Regions from separate parts of the Homo sapiens genome. Here regions 1, 2, 3, 5, 6 and 7 are each reported to be linked to region 4. Evidence: microRNA targets listed by miRTarBase, many of them from high-throughput screens and not tested one by one. Region 4 holds a microRNA gene; each other region holds the end of a gene's coding sequence.
The links. Region 4 holds the annotated microRNA hsa-miR-30c-5p (UGUAAACAUCCUACACUCUCAGC, at 944-966, opposite strand). A microRNA usually pairs through its seed, bases 2 to 8, with sites in the 3' UTR of a target mRNA and lowers its output. Matches are read on the target gene's strand: a 7mer-m8 pairs with bases 2 to 8, a 7mer-A1 pairs with bases 2 to 7 and ends in A, and an 8mer does both.

Region 1: miRTarBase lists DNMT1 as a target of hsa-miR-30c-5p. The part of its 3' UTR that is shown has no 7-base or 8-base seed match.
Region 2: the mRNA of SLC9D1 is a reported target of hsa-miR-30c-5p. The part of its 3' UTR that is shown has no 7-base or 8-base seed match.
Region 3: miRTarBase lists AGPAT5 as a target of hsa-miR-30c-5p. The part of its 3' UTR that is shown has no 7-base or 8-base seed match.
Region 5: miRTarBase lists SLC4A7 as a target of hsa-miR-30c-5p. Seed matches in the 3' UTR shown: 8mer at 220-227.
Region 6: the mRNA of YTHDC2 is a reported target of hsa-miR-30c-5p. The part of its 3' UTR that is shown has no 7-base or 8-base seed match.
Region 7: miRTarBase lists CSF1 as a target of hsa-miR-30c-5p. The part of its 3' UTR that is shown has no 7-base or 8-base seed match.

What each region holds. Positions count from the first base shown.
Region 1 is chr19:10,130,988-10,134,085 of GRCh38, reverse strand. It overlaps DNMT1 (DNA methyltransferase 1), which reads left to right. Exons shown (of 41, transcript NM_001130823.3): 41 at 385-740. The coding sequence ends at 419. Among named protein-coding and RNA genes, the nearest start is that of EIF3G, 13 kb to the right of the region's middle. RefSeq lists a silencer at 896-1,192.
Region 2 is chr13:113,548,955-113,552,052 of GRCh38, reverse strand. SLC9D1 (solute carrier family 9 member D1) reads right to left here. Exons shown (of 13, transcript NM_017905.6): 13 at 1,824-2,628. The coding sequence ends at 2,515. Among named protein-coding and RNA genes, the nearest start is that of TFDP1, 34 kb to the left of the region's middle. RefSeq lists an enhancer at 1-319.
Region 3 is chr8:6,757,134-6,760,231 of GRCh38, reverse strand. AGPAT5 (1-acylglycerol-3-phosphate O-acyltransferase 5) reads right to left here. Exons shown (of 8, transcript NM_018361.5): 8 at 1-3,069. The coding sequence ends at 2,844. Among named protein-coding and RNA genes, the nearest start is that of MIR4659B, 13 kb to the right of the region's middle.
Region 4 is chr6:71,376,060-71,379,157 of GRCh38, forward strand. It overlaps MIR30C2 (microRNA 30c-2), which reads right to left and starts at 972; the gene lies at 901-972.
Region 5 is chr3:27,373,941-27,376,940 of GRCh38, forward strand. SLC4A7 (solute carrier family 4 member 7) reads right to left here. Exons shown (of 26, transcript NM_001321103.2): 26 at 1-2,905. The coding sequence ends at 2,824. Among named protein-coding and RNA genes, the nearest start is that of NEK10, 6.1 kb to the left of the region's middle.
Region 6 is chr5:113,593,018-113,596,115 of GRCh38, reverse strand. YTHDC2 (YTH N6-methyladenosine RNA binding protein C2) reads right to left here. Exons shown (of 30, transcript NM_022828.5): 29 at 2,726-2,813; 30 at 832-2,634. The coding sequence ends at 2,733. Among named protein-coding and RNA genes, the nearest start is that of YTHDC2, 81 kb to the right of the region's middle.
Region 7 is chr1:109,924,766-109,927,863 of GRCh38, forward strand. CSF1 (colony stimulating factor 1) reads left to right here. Exons shown (of 9, transcript NM_000757.6): 7 at 11-63; 8 at 382-437. The coding sequence ends at 424. Among named protein-coding and RNA genes, the nearest start is that of CSF1, 15 kb to the left of the region's middle.

The DNA.
Region 1 (3,098 bases), not on the chromosome of region 4:
TTTCTCAAGGGGCTGCTGTGAGGATTGAGTGAGTTGCACGTGTCAAGTGCTTAGAGCAGGCGTGCTGCACACAGCAGGCCTTTGGTCAGGTTGGCTGCTGGGCTGGCCCTGGGGCCGTTTCCCTCACTCCTGCTCGGTGAATTTGGCTCAGCAGGCACCTGCCTCAGCTGCTCACTTGAGCCTCTGGGTCTAGAACCCTCTGGGGACCGTTTGAGGAGTGTTCAGTCTCCGTGAACGTTCCCTTAGCACTCTGCCACTTATTGGGTCAGCTGTTAACATCAGTACGTTAATGTTTCCTGATGGTCCATGTCTGTTACTCGCCTGTCAAGTGGCGTGACACCGGGCGTGTTCCCCAGAGTGACTTTTCCTTTTATTTCCCTTCAGCTAAAATAAAGGAGGAGGAAGCTGCTAAGGACTAGTTCTGCCCTCCCGTCACCCCTGTTTCTGGCACCAGGAATCCCCAACATGCACTGATGTTGTGTTTTTAACATGTCAATCTGTCCGTTCACATGTGTGGTACATGGTGTTTGTGGCCTTGGCTGACATGAAGCTGTTGTGTGAGGTTCGCTTATCAACTAATGATTTAGTGATCAAATTGTGCAGTACTTTGTGCATTCTGGATTTTAAAAGTTTTTTATTATGCATTATATCAAATCTACCACTGTATGAGTGGAAATTAAGACTTTATGTAGTTTTTATATGTTGTAATATTTCTTCAAATAAATCTCTCCTATAAACCACCCTGGGTGGGTATTCGTGATTTGCACGGGACTTCTGGCTGAGGTCAGACAGGAACAAGCTCTTCCATGCTGAAGGCGACCCACGTGGAGTTTGAAGCTAGCACGTTTGAAGCTAGACACTCCGTGTGTCTGTCTGTGTTTGTTCAGAACTGAGTCACGTGAGTTGATCCCCATGACATGCAAATGGAACTTGCTAGTGTAGCTTCCAGGAAAGCCTTTTAAAGGAAGTCTTGGCTGGCCTTCCCCGTGGCTGGTAGGCCTTCTTTGGTCTGAAGTGGGTTGTGATGCCTGGCAGTGGAGCAGCCATCCTGTGACCATGAGGCAGAGCTCTGTGCTGCAACTGGTGGAATAAGGAGAGAGAAGTCACCACTGAGCTGCCCTTGGAGCCCCGGCCACCCCATCCCCAAGCAAAACCTCTTTAGTTGGGTTTTTTTTCTTTCCAAAGAATTTTTTTTTTTTTTTGAGACAGTCTTGCTCTGTTGCTCAGGCTGTAGTGCAGTGGGGCAGTCTCCGTTCAATGCAGCCTCTGCCTCCTGGGTTCAAGAAATTCTGCCTCAGCCTCCCGAGTAGCTGGGATTGTAGGCGCCCATCACCACGCCCAGCTAATTTTTGTATTTTTAGTAGAGACGATGTTTCACCATGTTGGCCAGGCTGGTCTTGAAATCCTGACATGATCCGCCCACCTGGACCTCCCAAAGTGCTGGGTTACAGGTGTGATCCACTGCACCCAGCCTCCCATTAGCTTTTTTTTTTTTTTTTTTGAGACAGTTTCGTTCTTGTTGCCCAGGCTGGAGTGCGGTGGCACGATCTCTGCTCACTGCAACCTCCGCCTCCCAGGTTCAAGTGATTTTCCTGCCTCAGCCTCCCAAGTAGCTGGGATTACAGGCATGCGCCATCACACCCAACTAATTTTGTATTTTTAGTAGAGACGGGGTTTCTCCATGTTGGTCAGGGTGGTCTCAAACTCCCGACCTCAGGTTATCCGCCTGCCTCGGCCTCCCAAAGTGCTGGGATTATAGGTGTGAGCCACCATGCCTGGCCAGCATTTTTTAATAGTGACATAACACTTCTGTGTGTCCTTTGGCCACTGGATGTACCGTTTCTCTGTGATGGCCACATGACTGTCTTTGCTGGGAGCTCCCTGGGCATTTGGGATGACTGCCCCTGCTCAGTCATCCTGGCTTATCATGTCTGTGCCATACAGAGACCTCCCATTTTTAGGAAGTCAATTTATATTTGTCACTCTTAGTTTTTTGTAGCCTGTTTATTTTTGAGACGGATTCTCACTCTGTCGCCCAGGCTGGAGTGCAGTGGTGTGATCTCTGCTCACCACAACCTCCGCCTCCCGGGTTTAAGCAATTCTCCTGCCTCAGCCTCCCAAGTAGCAGGGATTGAGTAGCTGGGATTACAGGCGCCTGCCAGTACATCTGGCCAATTTTTGTTAATTTAGTAGAGACAGGGTTTTGCCATGTTGGCCAGGATGGTCTTGAACTCCTGACCTCAAGTGATCCTCCCAAAGTGCTGGCATTACAAGCATGAGTCACCGTGCCCGGCCTTTGTAGCCTATTTAGAAACGCCTTTCCTCCCCCCAGCAAGAGATCTTAAACATGTATCTTCTTCCACATTTCTGACATTCCCATTTTAACACATGAATCACTTTTGTAAGGACTAAAAATGGGGATCTCAGCTTATTTTTTGAATAAGACTGATAGCAAATGCACACAGCAAAGTACAACAGCTCAGCTTGACATATGGTAAAGTTCCCCCATCCGAGATTTTTTTTTAAATATACTTTCTGCTGCTATTTTAAGCTAAAAAATTCATTTTAAAGTATATAATGAGTATAATGAGTTTTCTTTTTCTGGATTCCAAGGCACCTTGATCAAGACAACTGAATCTTTGTACTAATGCATAGTGTGACCTTGTGAGAAAACAATCACCCATGTACCTATTATCTTTTTTTATTTTCTATTTTTTTGAGACAGGGTCTCAGTCTGTCACCCAGGCTGGAGTGCAGTGGCCTGATCTCGGCTCATGGCAACCTCCACCTCCTGGGTTCAAGTGATCCCCTGCCTCCGTGTAACTGGGACTACAGGACTGTACCATCATATGTAGCTAATTCTTGTTTTGTTTTTTGAGATGGAGTTTCACTCTTGTTGCCCAGGCTGGAGTGCAATGGCGCAATCTCGGCTCACTGCAGCCTCTACCTCCCGGGTTCAAGGGATCCTCCTGCCCCAGCCTCCCAAGTAGCTGGGATTACAGGCGTGTGCCTGGCGAATTTTTGTATTTTTGGTAGAGACGGGCTTTCACCATGTTGCCCAGGCTGTTCTCGAGCTCCTGACCCCAAGTGATCAGCCC
Region 2 (3,098 bases), not on the chromosome of region 4:
CCGGTAGGATTTCACCGTAACCTGATGACAATTTTCAAATTTAAGATGAAGATGTCATGATCAGGCTGGTTAGCCTCCAGCAAACATGTCCCCACAAGACTCACCATGAGTCCGTCCTCCCACTTCTTTCTAGTGACATGCTACACACTGGGGAAATGCTGAGAGCAGGGTGGGGGCAATGTGGCTACCAGGGGCTCGGTGGCTCGGAGACCCCCATCTGGATGACAGGGGCAGACATGATGGGGATGGGATGGGGAGGGTGAAGCTTTCTGGAAGGTCTGGATGAAAGAGGAGTCATGAGGTCAAGAAAGGGTTCTGCTGGGTCAGCATGGGACAAACGGGCAGGTCACAGATGAGGAAGTCACTAGCAGAGAGGTGGGGGTGAAAACGGGAGTGACGGGTTCACAGAGCCAGGTCCTGTGGCTGGAGTGGGGCAGGTGGGCCCAGCTGGGGCTTTGAGGACACCGTTCCTGGGCAGTTAGGATCTTACCTGAGTGATCAGTTAGGCAGAGACCCTAGCATGCTTTCTCTCGTCATTCAGGGCACTTCTTATTTCATCTTGCAGAGAGAGGCTAATTTCGTGTTTTGGGGGGAGTTTGATGTTACTCTCATCAAGTCGGTTTCCTTCAGTTTAACAAAATTAAAAAGATGGTCACAGGTGTTGGAGACAAAAAAAAAGTCACCCTGTTGCAGAGACTCCACTGTATCCTGAATGCCTGGATGGGGAGAAGGCGCGTGCACAGGGAAGATGGAGTGTCACAGGCGTGGCAAAGCAGCACAGGGACACAGTGATAGGCCAGTCAGCCTCAGGCAGACAGGCCACACCCAGAACGCTTCACATGCACCTGGCAACATCTCATATATCATCACGAGTGGAGGAGAAAACGGCACTAGACCATTTGGGCTCATTTAGAAATGAAAAACCAAAGATATTTTCTAAACATAAACATGTTGGTATCATTTCTCCATTAATCTGCTTCAGACTAGATACAACTTACTTCAAAATGTTTTAATTTATACTACTGCAATCGATAATTTATGTGTGCAATACATAATTACACCTGCCATTTTTACCTTCTCTATCTCAAGTATTTTGGTCAAATTGTTAGGCTCTTAAAGCTGACAGGTATACGAAAACCCTGGCTTAAAGTACTTGCTATGTTGTACACAATAAATATGTTGACTTTTATCTGTCAATTAAAAAAATTCATGCAGTTGAAAAAGCCTAATACGGTACCTGCTACGGTTCAAATGCTTCTGTCCCCTCGATGTGCACTGCAAGCGTTGGGAGGTGAGGCCTGCAGGGAGGTGTTTAGGTCAGGAGGAATCTGCCCTCGTGAATCAATGCTGCCACACAAAGGGGACTGGGGAGTGGTTGGCTCTCCTGCTCTTCTACCACGTTAGCACCCAGCCTTCCTCCCTCTGGAGGACCCAGCGTTCCAGGCACCATCCCGGAAGCAGAGAGCAGGCCTGACCTGCCAGCACCTCCATCTTGTTGTCCCCAGCCTCCAGAATTTCGAGAGATAAGTTTGTGTTCTTTGTAAATGACCCAGTTTCAGGCATTCTATTACAGCAGCACAAAACAGATGAGCACAATGCCTCTTAGGGAAGTCCTTGTGAGGCTCAGATCCTCACCTGTGTGGTTTTCTAAACTGGGGCACATAATCACCAAAATAGATATTTAAATATCAAAAGTTAGAACTTATCAATTAACACTGCATTAATTTGGTGTCTTGGAGAATAGCATGTTAATATAGAAATCATCTTAGTAAAAAAAAAAATTGGCTGGAATTTTGTATAAAGATAAGCTCAATACAAAAAAATTAATAAAAACAGATTTTAATAAATTTCAATTAATTATACCATGATCATAAATTATCTTTATTAAAGAATACATATTCTTGTGATTTAAAACCAAATATTTTAAGTGATATATCTAATAGAAATTGACATGAAATTATTTCATTTAAAAGTTACAATAAAAGGCAAATAGACATCCGTATTTGTCTCATTTTAGAAAACATAGGCTTTAAGAATCAAAAGTAAGCTTCCAAGCTCACGGCCAGGATTACAACTTCATATTACAGAAATGTTTAATAACAAATATTTGACTAACAGATTATAATTCTGAAGTTGTACATTTTTAAAAGCCTTTTAATTTTGCTTCTTTACTAAAAAAACTATGAACTGATGAACTCACAATAGAAAATTAATAATAATTTCAGGGAAAAAAAAAAAAGGCACATCCAGGCACCACATTCAAGGTGATCGGTAAAACGCAGTGTCCCGGGTCTACTGCACATAATCAACAGACTGCAAATAAACTACTCCGGAAAATTCTAAAATAGGACAAGAATATTCTGTAAAAGCCGGGATAACACGACTGCACTGACGCTCTGCTAGAGGGCTGTTCTGTTGCCAAGGTGCGAGCTTCCCAGAAGGAGCAGCTGCTGGCCATCTAAGCGCTCACTCCCCACAGACGCTTCCCTTCCACGGTCCATCATCTCCGAGCCATCAGAGGCTGGACCGTCTCTCCGGTCTGGGCACACACCTCGTGATTGCAGCTCTCCACAGCACCGGGGCGAGCAAGAGGCTGAGCGTGGTCACACTCAGTATAAGGAGGTACACCTGCAACAGCAAAGTGCAGAGCGGGTCACAGAGACTGTCAGGACTAGCACCTGCAACAGGAAAGCACAGGGCTGGTCTCACTGAGCTGGGAGGGACGCCTGCAAAGCTAGAGTCCTGAGGCTGAGCACAGTCACGCTGAGTGCTGGGAGGGATGCCTGCACGGGGGGGTGGGGGATGGAAGCTAAGCGCGGTCATGCCGAGTGCTGGGAGGGACGCCTGCACATCATAAATTCACTACTATCTCTTTAAAGCACATGGAAGTACAGCCAGAAGCTGAGGACATTGGGATGTAGGAGAGACTGTGATTTCAAGATCAGTGATGCATGGTTAGTCCTGATGGGCCACAGGATAACAGCTTTAGCCTGTGTTTGCCTGAAGGCCAACCCCGGGCCACAGTAACAAGCCAGCCTGCCCCACAGCTTCCCTGACCCTGGGGATGCGGCCTTGGGTCAGGCCTCAGGTGGAGCTTC
Region 3 (3,098 bases), not on the chromosome of region 4:
TTTTTGTAGACAGGTTCTCGATATGTTGCCCAGGCTGGTCTTGAACTTGGCCTTATTTCCTTCTATCTATGATCAGTCTAGTTAGATCACTTGATTGACACAGACCTATTCAAAGAATATAATTATGAACAAAGGAAAAAATAAAGCTTATGTAACCCATATTAAGCAAAATTGTTGCCACTCTAAATTTTAAAAATCACATGGAAATGAAACATATGAAAAACTATCAGTATGTATGGTGTAAGAGTTAGCCAGATCGGCACTTTTATTCACCAACTTAGTTAATTTAAGGCATTTGACATGTTTCACTGAGATCACTTAATGATTACAGAATTGCCAAGCAAATTAACATCGGCCATGCATCTTATAAATTGCAGATGAATTTATATAACCAAACTAATATACTGCTTAACAGTTTTGATTATTTTAGTGTATTTTTTTAAAACTTTGCTCAAAGCTTAGGGAAAAATATTGTGAAGAATGCAGGGCCAGTCATTAAGCCTATTTTATGTACTGGGAGACTGTTGGTGAATTTTAGGGTCAAAAAATGTTAAACAGCACAGCCATTAGAGACAGTGAAAGATTTTATTTTTTTTTTTACTTTCATCCAAACACACCCTTTTCTGAAAAACATAAAAGCATGCACATCGACGGCATTCTTATAAAGAAAAATTAATAACTAAGCTGTAAATCAGTAATAATACAAACAAAAGTTTAAATGATATGTGAAAAGACTTACAGGTAGGTATACGGCTCTTAATTTTAGAAAATAATTCAAGTCAGTATCAATACAGGTTAAGGAGAAGCTTCTAATTTTCCAAACATTTTGATACAAAATTTTTTTCAACGACTGTATTTTATAGACCTTTTGTGAGAAGATTAGTATAGTTCTATGAAACCTAACATTCAAGTGATCTTATGCAGGTCAGGCTACCTTGTTAAAATGAGTTAGAATCCACATAATTCCAACAGTATTGCCTCTCAAAGTTCAAATTTAGAACATACCCATTATATTCAAAATATATTAAATCCCTGTACTTAACAAAGACATGGAATTGATCTAAATTTTACTTTACAGGTAAGAGAAAATTACAATTCAGCATGAGGAAATTTTCATAAGTTTTACCCATGCCCCGATTATTAGGCCAACTATATCCTGAGTGTCCATGGATGTGTGCATACATTCTAATGTACACAAACCAATTCACACCACACGACTCTTCAAAGATGATGCTTGAAAGAGTTTATTCTCTGGCATGGGAGAAGCAGTGTAACACAGTCACTTAATTTTCCCTTAATCATTATTTCTTTCATTTTGCTTATCATGATCCAACTGGTATGTTTAATGTGGGCCACTGATATATTTCTGCAGCAAAAATCCAGTAGCAGTAAGCAGAAATGTCAACTTAAAGGACTATGAGGAAATCGAAGTTTAAATTATAACACAAAAATAGAACAGTTCACACTGAAAGGTCTTCTCCCATGGGATATATTGTTCCATGGCTAAAAATCGTGATCTGGTTCCTGGAACACAGCTCTTGCTCTAAGGCGATACATATTAATGTGTAGCTCCACTAAACCTAATGGGAAATAAACAAATTCGTTCAGTCATGACAAATTAAGTCTGTATTTCACTGGCTTGAGAAGGTGAACTTCTTGACACAGACAAATGCAAAATGCCTCTGCAGTAGCTGGTGAAGCCCACTCACAAGGGCTTAAAGAGTTCAACTCTGAAAGTGGGCAGCACAGGCTGGCTCTGCATTTCTTCCTAGCAAGTCTGCGTGCAAGCCGCTGAGCAGCACCACTGACGGGATCCAAGGGAAGGACCAGAGCCCAGTGGGAATCCACCACACTACAGAAACGCGACTTCTGAATGAATATTCTGTGAAATCAAAGAGAAGCAGGCAAAAGGCACACGCTAGTAAATCTAGGCAGAATGTCTGCAGGCTCTCATCACCTTAAAAATCTTGTGAACTTGGGGTCCAACCAAGGTTCACACCGACTCTTTTGATATTAAAAAAACAAAACAAAACAGAAAACCTTAACGTTTTCAAGCACTTATGGCACAGACAAAGGGAAGTACTAATAGTGTAGCTTAAATCTTCAAAAAGCTGGGAAATTTAAAGTTCTGCTATAATGAATCAGAGTCACAATTTTAAACTTCGTTCTCATATTTTATACCATTTTCTGTGTGTACAGGGTGTGCAAATTAAGCAATTTCAATAAATATTAGAAATTTATTTTGCAAATATAAAATGAGTAAAATCAGCTAATAACGCAATACAATAAAATCATGTGCTAAACAGAGCTTTTTCCCCATGAACACTTTTTACCCTTTCCTTTGAACATCCTGACACTTCCTAAATACAATTTATTTCACTGACTTGTAGAAATAAGCAAAAGATGAAATATTAACTAGCTGCAAGATACTAAATACTTTAGTAATAAGAGCTTGGAGCTGTCAAGTTGTAATAAATTGAAAATAACAGAAAAAGTGAAATACGCTGCAAATTAATGCTCAAAAATGCAGCCATCTGACTTGCAAAATACACAATCCTCCCAGCCTTCTCAAGTTGTCATTAGTTCATAGGAAATGGACAGAGCAGGAGAAACTCCATTTAGCTTTTACCCTTCCAGCAGCCCCGATGCTAAAGTTGTACAACCAGGTATGTTTGCCCAAGACCATTGCATATCAGCTTTCGTCACAAATTCTATTATCCAATCTTCAATCAACAAGGCTTTATTTACACTCCTTAATAAATTCAGGAAACAATTTGATGTCATGTGCAGCCGCCAAAAATAGACAATGTAGCACATCCCACTGTCTGGAGACAGCTACTTGTCTATGCTTTAATAGTAACCCACAGGCAGCCAAGTAGGGTTCCATATATCCAGGTGTTCACATACAGCTTCCTTCCAGCATCGGTCATAAGCATGCCTGCAGTCAAACCACTTAAGATCAACATTGATGGTAAAGTCTTCTTGATACTTAATTTGGAATTAACACTTTTCCCAGGAAATCTTTTTCTTCTTTCTGGATCTGGTGACTCATAAAATTCTATAAGCATCCTATGGCCAGAATGGAAAAAGTTTAGATT
Region 4 (3,098 bases):
GTCTTTTAGTTTAAATGACTGATATATGCTGATATGCCAAGACTAGAGTAATTTTGTTCAGATTTGTTTAATTTTTAATAGAAGCATTAAGTTAATTATTTAACTTCTTAAGGGCTTGTTATATAAAAATATGCCTTATTTAAATATTCTCTTTAACAAGAAGGCTTATTTCATAATAATTTTAAATAAATCAGCAATGGACTCAAATTTCAGGTAAGTTACATTCTAGATTAGATGTTTAATAGACCTTTGATTTAAACGATTTACATGAAAGAGTTTTTCTGGTTAAGGCTGAACTTATGAGTTCGTTCTGTAGATTTTTCTTAAAATTAACTTCTTGCATCCCATCCCTTACCTCTACATTTTCCTTCCTCTCCCGTCCTCCAACAACAATTCTATTTTTTCCTGAAATGTGTAACTATATTCTAGCTTTAAAGAGCAGACCTTATTGTTTGCCATTACAATTCCTAAAGCATGGGGCTCCAAGGTGCCTTTGATCCCTGATAAAATAGCAAGTCCAAGGACACTAGAATTTTTGCTTCAAGAAAAGCAGACTTCAGTGTGGAATGCTCTCAGGTTAAAGGAGAAATGTTTAGCTTAACGTATAGGTAATGTGTTGCTTTTACAGATCAGACTGCAGCAACCCACAAAATGTAGCCTCATACAAGTTAACCAGAACTTTTGTCACTTGGGTATTTGGTAATCTTTTTTTTCTTTTTAAACTAAGTGAAACAGTTCAAATATAACTGATATTATAGATTATCTTACATTTCTTTGGATGACTTAGTCAATTCACCTTTTTTCCTTTTACAGTTGACCTCAGAAACAAACACGGGATAGGATCAATTCTAAGACATAGAAATATTCAAAATCCATTTCTCTTTAGTTGACTTCCAAGGCAGAAAGAGTAAACAGCCTTCTCCCAGCTTTCTTACTTTCCACAGCTGAGAGTGTAGGATGTTTACAGTATCTGTCGCTCAGTGCTCTCTAGGATGGGGTTGGCAGTCAGCAGCACAAGCCTCAGGAAACCCAGTACCATTTGAAGATACCATAATATGTCACAGGAAAAGATCAGAAAAGTATACTTGGGACTAAATTATGGCTCTTTTAGGAGTAGGGTTGGAAGGGTGGGTGGGGAGGCTATATGACACTTACTTAGTGCTGCCTGCTCAGTTCTTGTTTTCTTCCTGTTTTGCACATCCTAAGATATTCCTAAGGTCTCTAGCTTTGAGCTTGCACACTCACGGATTTGGTTAATTTTGGATTTTCAATATTCTATGCTTTCCCAAAAGGGTTTCAAAATATTCGCCAAACTCCTTCCTTAAACAGTACATAATCCCTTTCTGACTGTTGGGAGACATGAAATGCAGCTTCTCACTCTCTGGGCTATACAACTTTGTTTCAGCTCACTCCTGCACAGAACTGAGAATAATGGCTAAACAGAAGACCAACAGTTTAATTACTGAAAATTAGTTACCTTAATGATGGGATACACAGTAATAAATTTAATCAAATGAGCAAAAAGTAAATATGTTAGAATACAACTTTACATGCATAAAAATGGTATATTGCAAATTGCTAATATAATGCTAAAATTATTTTAAAAATTCATATTCGGACAGAAGTGAACCTACAATTAGAGGCATACACATGAATGGAGTCAGTTGCTTCCTAAAGTTATTTTCTAAGAATGACTTATTCAAATAGTTCTTGGACTTCATTTGCTAAACTGGTCTAAGGTACACAAAATACTTGGGCGAAGAAGAAAGTCATCATTACTATACATCTCAGAACAAACCTACCTGATAAGAGACTACACTGTAAACCCAGGTGGCATATAATTCCAAACTGTTACAGGATCTTACTCATTTCATTCATTCATTCATTCATTCAACAAACAATTGTGACTGCCTGCCATATATCAGCAATGTTTTAAATTCTAGGTGATGAGAAATGAAGGGTATCATCCCTACCTTCGAGAAGGACACAGCTTAATTTGCAAGACAGACACATACACCATTACTATAAGTGTTATGATGGGTCAAAAGACACTTCTGAGTTGGCTAATAGCCAGGCTGAGTCTTGAAGCCTGAATAAAATTAGCTAGGTGAAGATGGTGCTAATGGGAATTTGGAAGGGGTGGGCAGTGAAGAAGATAGTGTAGCTTAAAGTGTACCAGAAAGAACAGTCATCCAATAGAGAAAGAAAGACAAAGGTAATGTATGCTGAGGCCTTTAAGAATTCAGCAGAGGTGGAGTCAAAGATGCATGTGGGTGAAGGGTAAGGGGAGAGACACAAGGGAAAGATGGGAGTCCTTATGTGCCAGGTTAAAGGGTTTGGGCATTATCTCCAAACGATGGGTACGAGTGAAAGATAGTAAGCAGGCAAGTGGGATGACCATGTCAGTACTTTAGAGAATTTACTCTAGCTTTAAGGTGGCAGGTAAGGAAAACAGGAAAAGAATCACTGCAGTAGTGTAAGGGAGAGCATGGGAGCCTTAATTAGGGAAGAGGCAGTAAGAACACAGAGAAAATGAATATGAGAAATTATAAAGACAAGAAGAACAGCAGAATTCAGTGAGTGAGTAGCTGAGGGGAGAGGCACTGTGGAGATGGAGAAGTCATGGGTAATTCACAAGCCTGGCTTGGGCTTCATAAGGCCTTTCATGCAGGAGGGAAAGAATAGGAAGAGAAGTGGAGAAGGAAAGAGCCCTAAGAATGATAACTTGAATGGGCTGGGCTGCAAAGTTATGACCCCATGCTCATTGAATACTGAATTCTGTCACAACTGAAAGGGTGAAAACACTTGAAGAACTAAATCACACAAACCTGTTCTTTATTCTGTTTCTGCACTTCTGCTTACTCTTCTACCTGGCAAGTGCCCATACAGTCTTCAAATCCCAAATCAAGTATTCTCTCTTGTGAATCCTCTCTGGTCAGCGTCATCCCTAACACCCACACCCCTCCCCCAACCTGAGGAGGAATTGTTCATTTTTCCTTTTACCACCATTATACTGTGCCTAGGTCACATAATTGCATATGCCTAGATCACAGAACTGATACTTTATTACAATTATTTGTTTACCTATCCATCTCTCT
Region 5 (3,000 bases), not on the chromosome of region 4:
GATCAGTATCATTCACATTCACACAAACATACACACACTTTAGAAAGACTGTGTGCTTGGCTTCGGCATATTTAATATCATTAAAGAATATATAGAATCATCCTTTTATCATAAGGAATTTACATCATTGTTTTCTCAAAAGCTGCTATTTTAGATTGAAACAGCATTCAGAAAAAAAGTACATTTCAGATGGTCAGCATCAGGATTTACTACAGACTTTGTAAACAGATATCTATAAATAAATAAACTAGGGTGGAGAAAAGAATATCCTGAGGTGGCTCTGTGGCCAGGGTATTCAGTAGCACTAAGCTCCATTCTGGAAATCAAGGCATCTAAAGAAAGTGCAGGGCTGAATTTATTTTGTAAATGGAATATGTACAGGTTTAATTATTTTGCACCTTGAGGTAAATCAGTACATAGCAACTACTACTGCTTACATACACTTATTTAAGGCAACTTTATTTAAAAATCAATATATGTAGTAAATTATATCTGTCACTGTCTCTCAATGAATGCTATCTTTGATTATTTTTCAAAAACAGTGGAAGAAATATAATCACTTAAAACAAGCAGTTAATTACCTAAACATGAGTTACCTTTGCTCTTAAATGGAGTAGTCAGATCATTTTGTCAGTCAAGTAGTCAAAAGAAAGCAGAAACCAGTAACATTTAGAAGCATTGTAAAAACATTTTGAGTGCAAAGTATTTTGCAAGTGACGGTTTTTCTGGCACTGGATAATTACTATACACAATTAAATAAAATCACAGAAACACTATGATCCCAGGTAGTTTTCAGTTTTAAAATTTCTTCCTGTAAAGTAAGTACAGTTGTTACCCCTGATGTCCAGACACAAGGAAATGATGTGAGGAAATCCTCTTGTTCAGGTACATCAGGGGAGTTTTAAAAATAGCAGCAAATACTGGGGTCTTTGGAAATAATTATGCTGCTACAAATAAAAAGGAATCATTACAATGGAAGCTCATAAACAATAATAAGCACCGTGGGTAATACTCTATCAATTGCCAATAGAGTCTAACTCTTTTTAGGCAGTACCAAATGATGACAGCTACATATTTTCTAAAGAAAAGCAGCTACATTTCCAACCTCTCATCCGAGGCAGAAGTTGAATCCATCATTTTAACAAGACTCTTACAATATGGTCTTAGAGGAGGACATTACATTAGTTAATAAATAGTTTATAATGAATTTAAAACACCAGACTTGCTAAAATTTCAGCTTTTGGCATTCCTCATGATCCTTTATTAGATTAATTATGTATACCTTTGTAATTTAATTATATGGTTAAAGGGAGCATTGGAATTTCATAAAATTTTCATCCTAATAGTGATGTCACCATTTTTGATATTTCTGTGGCTTCTCAATACTCATTTGATTTTTGTAAATTATTCTCTTGTCAAATCAGTTTCACAACCCCATTCATCCAGTCCTACAGGCTTAACAACATTTATTTCATGTGGAACTAAAAGTATATAAAAGATGACTAAAAAGATTTGTTAGACTTTAAAAAGCTCAGAAAAGCAAAAACTAATACACAAAATAAAAATGTCATTAATCTGAGCTACATATAAAATGTCTAATTTCCTTTTAAAATATAAATATGGCAGTGCTTTATATCAAAGATGTAAAATCTATCAATTGCTTTAAGATAATAAACATAAATGAAAGTAAGCACCAACTATTTACATTAACAATTTACTCTATTTGTTACTTTTCCAAATGTTTATATAATATTTAAGCATCATATCAAAATAAATATTTTAAAATAAAATCACAGGTAACAAGCTATTAAATGTAATCTACAAAAGTGAAAGAATAACATAAAGAGAAAATGAAAGGTAATTCTTAATAAAGTAATACTGATCATAGACCCTTCTGAGAGAATTCTAACTCCTGATTATTTACGCCTACTACTTATAAGAGAATAATAGTCAAGAACTTGAACCTGATGGAAACTAAAGCATTTTAAGACAAAGAGAGACAAGGCAGAGAACAGAGTGGGAATCATTGGCTTTAAAAGAGCATAAGGATTCAGAAAAAATATTCTACAAAGGCATCAAAATCAACTATTGCAAACTGGCATTGTATAACTTTTTAAATTCAGAAGTTATAAATGGTATGGGTGCTTAATTATCAAATCACCTGCAATTTTACTTGTCTGTCACAATGGATACCTAGATATGAAGGTTTTAAGATTTAAAAAAAATTTAAACATAAAAGTTAAAAACTATCATTATTAAAGTTTCTATTGTTCTACAGTCATCTCTATGGCTAAGAAAACGCCAGTTAGTGAAACACGATGGACATCTACAGAAATGAAACACAAATAGAGAAGCCCTGAAATGTTACCATTTTTCCCACAGCACTGGTATAGACTCCCTATTCTTCCCATAAAGCACTAACAAAAGTGAAATAATATGTGAAAATTTCAGGAAACACCTAAAAATTATAAACATATAAACAAAGTATCACTTAAGGTTTTTACGAATTGCCACTGATGAACAGAGATTTAAGAAAAGTAGACTGAAAGCATTTCTCCACATCCTTCTATTGCAAAACAGAAAATTTTTTTTTCTAACAGAATAAATATTTGAATAGTTAAGAACCATGTACCTCACTTCAAAGAGAGCATTTCATTAAATACATAGTCTCCACGGTGCTCATTACAAACTCCAGACACTACTTTTAAAAACCCGGTAGTCACACATAAACAGCATGACATACAATATTCTTATATATAGTGACATGATACGCACACATTACATATGTATATATCTATATGTATAATGCCTCTTGGTTCAATTCTATAATGAAGTTTCAGCATCCACGTATTTCTTTCTTGGTTCATCTTCAAAACTTATTTTCACACTCACAGGTTTATCAGGACTATTTAAAACAAAGAATTAAAATAAATAATTTTAAAATATAAATATTCAATTCTAAACATGGCTAACAATGAGTATACTAAACCTTCTGAGATT
Region 6 (3,098 bases), not on the chromosome of region 4:
TGTCTCCTTAAAAAAAAAAAAAAAAAAAAAAATTTAGCCAGGCATGGTATGGTGGCATGTCCCAGCTACTTGGGAGGCTGAGGTGGGAGGATTGGTTGAGCCCAGGAGACTGAGGCTGTAGTGAGCTGTGATCTCACCACAGCACTACAGCCTGGGTGACAGAGCGAGACCTTGCCTTTAAAAAAAAAAAAAAAAAAGACAACAAACTGCTTCCAGAGAATTAGTGAAAGCAAATATTAAAATTCTCTGGGAGATGAAAGGACTGATGGAAGCCAAGTATCTAAGATGCTACTACCATTTTCTACAAAGAAATGTCTGGGTAAAACAGCAGCTGCTCCACCTTTTCTGAATGGATGGCTTCATTAGCTGAAAGAAAGGAAACATTAGCTGACAGAAAAGAACTAAATTGTTCAGAAAAAGTAGTGTTAGCTACCAAGATATTGTACTATTAAAAAAAAAGATATTATACTATAACTAACTTTCTCCTGGATGTTTAGACAAGAACTTTGTGAATAAAGTTAGAAAAATACTAACATTTAAGTACAAGGTACTATTCATAATATTTAGAAATGTTTTAATATAGTTTAAGTTTCCTATTTTTGTATATTTTATTAATATTTAAAATATTTTATACTAAACAAAAGAGATTTTTGCCATCTCCTATTGAAATAAGGCAATTTACAGGGAAGGGAGTTTCAATACAAACCATCACCTTCTATATCAATTTAGTATTCTTCAAGGTGTTTGAAATTCATTATTATCTCAGGGGATATTGTTGATCATTGTTAACTTAGTCTTATTATAAAGTATAAGAAATAAGATCTGAAAAACTTAATAGAATTTCATTTTAATAAGTATATTTAAAGTTTATCGCTTCCAAAAAACAGCACTTTAATTACATTCAAGTTGTATTCATTTTAAATACCAACAAACCCATCATTTACATATAGAGCTAGATATTACAAAACAGATGGAAATTTAAACAAGTTTTTTTTTTAAGTCCTTCCAAATTTAGAACATTGTGAACTATTAAGTACATGCCTAAAAAATGTACACATTATCAGGGAAACACAAGTTGCTCTAATAGGAAAAGAGCCATAATACACATACAGTGGAATATAATTCAAATAGGTTCAATTTACAGGTATGTCTTAAAGTACAAGAAAACCCCAAAGCTAATAACTAGAACTATAGGCAAAATCATAGCTGACTTTCTAAACTAATGCACCACTATATAATGCTTTCCCAGAGAAAGTAGAAGGTTCTCAAGATTTTATGTTGACCCATGATTTTTCACGTGTTCTCAAATATAAAACCAGAGTTTTCTTTTTGTCTTTAATTTACACTCATGTTTGCCTGTTTGCTTTTATAAGAATAACTAAAATGTATCATGAGAAGTGCCATCAAACCTGTCTATTTAGAGCTCAGTAACCAAGACATTTCTTTCATTTTTCCCTGTTGCTCTATTTTCCCTTCAAAAAGTCTCTAAGGAAATTTTATAAACAGTGGTGGTAAAAAGATAATTCTGAGATGGCAAAGAAATATGAGACTTGGCACAAGCACGGATTTACAAAAAAAAAATTATCCCCCATTTATTAAACCATATATGCGAAAAAGGAAAATCATATCTGAAAACATAAGCCAGTGAAAACATACTGAAAAAAAATGGAAGGCGGCACTTAGAATTGTGGCGCTTGCAGGCTTTAGTTTGGAAGACGCACAGCAAGCAAGCTACCAGTTGAGAATTTTTAAAAACTTGTATGAACTTGTTTAAATTTTGAACTTGTTTCAATCAAGTTGTAGCCAAAACAAAAAGGTCATAATTACTGTGCTCATATAAGAGATGTGACGAGGGAAGGAGGGAGGGAGAAATGCAGGAAAGGAGCGGGGAGAGGAGGAAGGGAGGAAGAGAGGGAGGAAAGAGTAAGGTACACATCAGGTTAAAAGGGGCAGAATTAGGAATAAAACTAAGCACTTAATCTAATCTGATCAGGAAGAAACTTTGCCCTTTATTCAGATTTTATTGCATTTCATAATCACAGAAAAAGAACATCCAACTTTATTCTTAAATGTGTCTCAAGTTAAAAATGGCAGAATGAATAGCCCTTAGTTAGCACACACTATTTTTAAAAGGGACACTTGTAGAATTTCACTGGTTTTTTGTTGTTGTCCTTGTTGTTGTTTTCCCCGCTTCTTTTCATAGGTGTTGACGTATTTGTTTTCTAATGATAATCTTAAGAGTTGACTCTTCTAAAATGGTGCTCAGATGTTCTGATATATTCAGGCCTTTCTTAAACAACTTACTCTGCATTAAAAAGTCATCAATAAGAACTGTAATTCAGTGTTTTTAAAAATGAAATGTTTAACTTCAAATTGTTTGTTTAAAATAAACTGCTATTGTGCCAAATAATGAAACTACTATTTTATTCATTACAAACATCATATAATCATTCTCTATAATCACTATAAAAATTTAAATGCTTCCTTTCTCCTGTATATGAAGATGGTAGTTCTAAAGCAACACTCTAAAAGTGTTAAAAAGCCCATTCGTAACACACACCCCACCTCAGTTTTTGAAAGTCAGTGCATTCAGTGGTTATAAATAGGCATGATGTTCTTCCACAGCTAAGAGTTCTAGAAGAAAGGGGAAAAAAAAAGATAAATAATCTGAAAGGTTCCTAATGATCACAAATACTGCCAATACTCAAAGTCAAGATGGTATAACCTGAGTGTCAATCAGTTGTGTTTTTTTCTCCCAAGGGAAGACGTTCCCATAACTGGAGCAACTGTTCACCAACCAGAGGTTCTAGTTCCTAGATAAATCAGAAGTCAAAATAAACATAAAAAGAACTGGAGTGAAAATTTTTAATGACCAAAACCTACACTGATAAAAATGTAAGAAAATCACTTTAAATTTCATTTTCCTACCAGCGTATGCTAAAATCATCTGGTATGAATTGTTCTAATTCTTTGCTTTAAGGTTTATGGAGTTGACTTCCAGATTTAAGATTACAGTTAATCTGCAAAATCTCTCAACTTTTGTGACAAAATGGCAACAGATTCCCATGGAGTCCTGGAACTGTTTCTACCTAAAAATA
Region 7 (3,098 bases), not on the chromosome of region 4:
CTGTCCTCAGAGCCATCAAGAGCCTCAGAGAGCGGATTCTCCCTTGGAGCAACCAGAGGGCAGGTGAGAGCTTGAGGTGGGGCTCTGGGAGGCACTGGGGGCCTGGCTTGGGATCTGTTTCCCCTCTTCGTGGTGGTGGGGCTCTCCTGCTTGCTCTGAGGAAATGGAGCTGCAGAACAGGATGGGGGAGAGAAGAAGGGCCTCTGTCCTTTCCCAGATATCTGGGCTTTTTCCTGATTTCTCCGTAGAGTTAGACAGTTCTGGGTCTTTTCAATCTGAGAGGGCCTAGAGCATGTCTGGGGCTTAGGGGTAAACTTACGGAGTCCCCTTATTCCCCTGCTCCTGCTGATGTCTAATACCAGCCCTGTGCTCTGCCTGCAGCCCCCTGACTCAGGATGACAGACAGGTGGAACTGCCAGTGTAGAGGGAATTCTAAGGTAAGATTCTGACTTTGATCTCCACTCCTAAAACTTACCTATACCCTTTTCCAGTCACGTTCACCTGTTGGTGACACCAATTCCCCTGAGGCCCCCACACTGACTCCCATGCCTCTCTCCAGTTCCCTTTCCATACATCGCCAGCCAGGTCCAGCCACCCTCTCCTTTCCAGGTCCTCAGCTATCCCCCTGCCCCTCCATTCCATCCACCCCCGCTGAGGCCAGGGACTATTACCTCTGCATTGGGCTTCTAGTGTTGCTGCCACCTGTGACCTCAGAGCAACTAAACCCCCCTTTTTCAAATGTGGCCTTTATAAGGTCTTTACCCTCCTGGAGAATCTTCAGTAGCTCTGTGTGGCAGCCACTGCAAGCCCTATATTCTTGGCTTGGCTGCCAAGCCCCTTCGACAGCAGCTGCTTGCCAGATCGCCACCCCCGCACCAGTTAACCCTCCTCCCCAGCTGAGGTCAGTTCTGCTTCCTTGCTTTTAGGATCATGTTGACATAGAACCTGAGTCTTGGAAGGGCTCTCAGGGGTCATTTGGCCCTGGTTCCCACCCCAAAGGGACTGCCCCTCTCCATGTCCCCAACAGGGAGCCAGCCAGCTGGCTGTCACACACTCCCAGATCCAGCCCAGCTCCCTGCCTAGCCACAGCCCATGCCATCTTCCAGTCAGACTGGGAGAAACGTCTTCCTCATGCGAGGCAAAACTGGCTTCCCTGCCCCCTCCATACTGCTCCTCCCTCCTGTTCTCATGAAAACCCTCAGATATTTCAAGTCAGGTATCCATGTCCCCTTTGAGAATTCTCTAAGCTAAGTATGGCCAAGTCCCTCAAACGTTCCTTATATGATATGGTTTTCAGACCCCTCACCATCCTGGACACACTCGTTTGTCAATGTCCCTCTGAAAATGTGACGCCCAGCCCCGGACACAGTACTCCAGATGTTGTCTGACCAGCTCAGAGAGAGTACAGTGGGACTGTTACCTTCCTTGATATGGACAGTATTCTTCTATTTGTGCAGATTAAGATTGCATTAGTTTTTTTCTTAACAACTGCATCATACTGTTGTCATATGTTGAGCCTGTGGTCTATTAAAACCCCTAGTTCCATTTCCCATAAACTTCTGTCAAGCCAGACCATCTCTACCCTGTACTTGGACAACTTAACTTTTTTAACCAAAGTGCAGTTTATGTTCACCTTTGTTAAAGCCACCTTGTTGGTTTCTGCCCATCACCTGAACCTACTGAAGTTGTGTGAAATCCTAATTCTGTCATCTCCGTAGCCCTCCCAGTTGTGCCTCCTGCACATTGATGAGTGCCTGCTGTTGTCTTTGCCCATGTTGTTGATGTAGCTGTGACCCTATTGTTCCTCACCCCTGCCCCCCGCCAACCCCAGCTGGCCCACCTCTTCCCCCTCCCACCCAAGCCCACAGCCAGCCCATCAGGAAGCCTTCCTGGCTTCTCCACAACCTTCTGACTGCTCTTTTCAGTCATGCTCCTCCTGCTCTTTTGTATTTGGCTAATAGTATATCAATTTGCACTTATTTGGATGTTGTTTTCATATTTTTTAAAATCTTATTTTATATGTATTGTACATTCCACATCCCTAAGATTGTAAGCCCCTTGAGGGCAGGGACTGTCTTCCACTTTTTTTTGTGTTTCTTTTTCCATCCTGGGTTCTACTAAGAGAGGGCCTCTCCACATTTGCCAAACATGCAATAAATGTTGACTGACTGGCTTCAGGGCTGACTCACGGACTGACCCTGGCCAGCTGTCTCTAACTGACCAGCCTCTAGCTGACCAGTTAACCAGCTAACTGACTGACTCTGACTGACTGGCTGACCAGCTGGCTGGGTGAATGACTAACCAACCAACTATCTTGGTAACTGCCTAACTGACCAGCTGTTGCTTGGGGAGCCCATTGAGCAACTGACTAGCTGATTGCCTGACTAATTGGCTGGTTGGCTGACTAGCTGGGGTGACCCAGTCAAGTTTCCAGTCACATCCTTTACCAAGTGCAAGCCAGTGCCGCAGGGCTCTCCCATGTGTGGAGTGACAGGTCTGGGCCCCTTCTAGAGAGATAGGGAATTTGGCAAATGCTCAAAACCAGGGGAACCTATTTAGACAAGAACCAGCAGTAACAACATATCTGGAATCCTGGGGTCTACCTTGTCAGTGGGGTGGGCTAAGATGGGTGAGTGGGTCAGCTGGGGCACTGGCAAGACTGTGAAATGACCCAGGCCTCCTCAGAACTGGTTGCTGGTGGCTCAGTGCCACAACACCCTTCCCACGGGTCGTCTGTCCCCAAACCCCTCGCCGTGGTCTTGGCCCTCTGTCCCACCCCTCTACACGCCCACCCTCCTTTCCCCACTTGCTTATTCTCAGGCCCGTCCCAAGCTTTCCTCTTCCCCCTCAAGATTTCACTTGGAGAGGGAATCCAGGGCAGGGGCTACATCCAGATCCCACTTGGCCCGGCAGGTCCAGCCCTAAGGTGGTCTCCAGGCCAGGCACCAGTGGCCTTGGAGAGATTGAGTGCCAGCCCCTAGAGTGACTGCTGCTGTGATTTGAGAAGTGAGAGAGAGAAACATAGAGGCAGAGACTGAGATAGGGACTCAGAGCCACAGAAAATGCAGACACCAGCACCTCAGCCCTAAGCAGCTAGA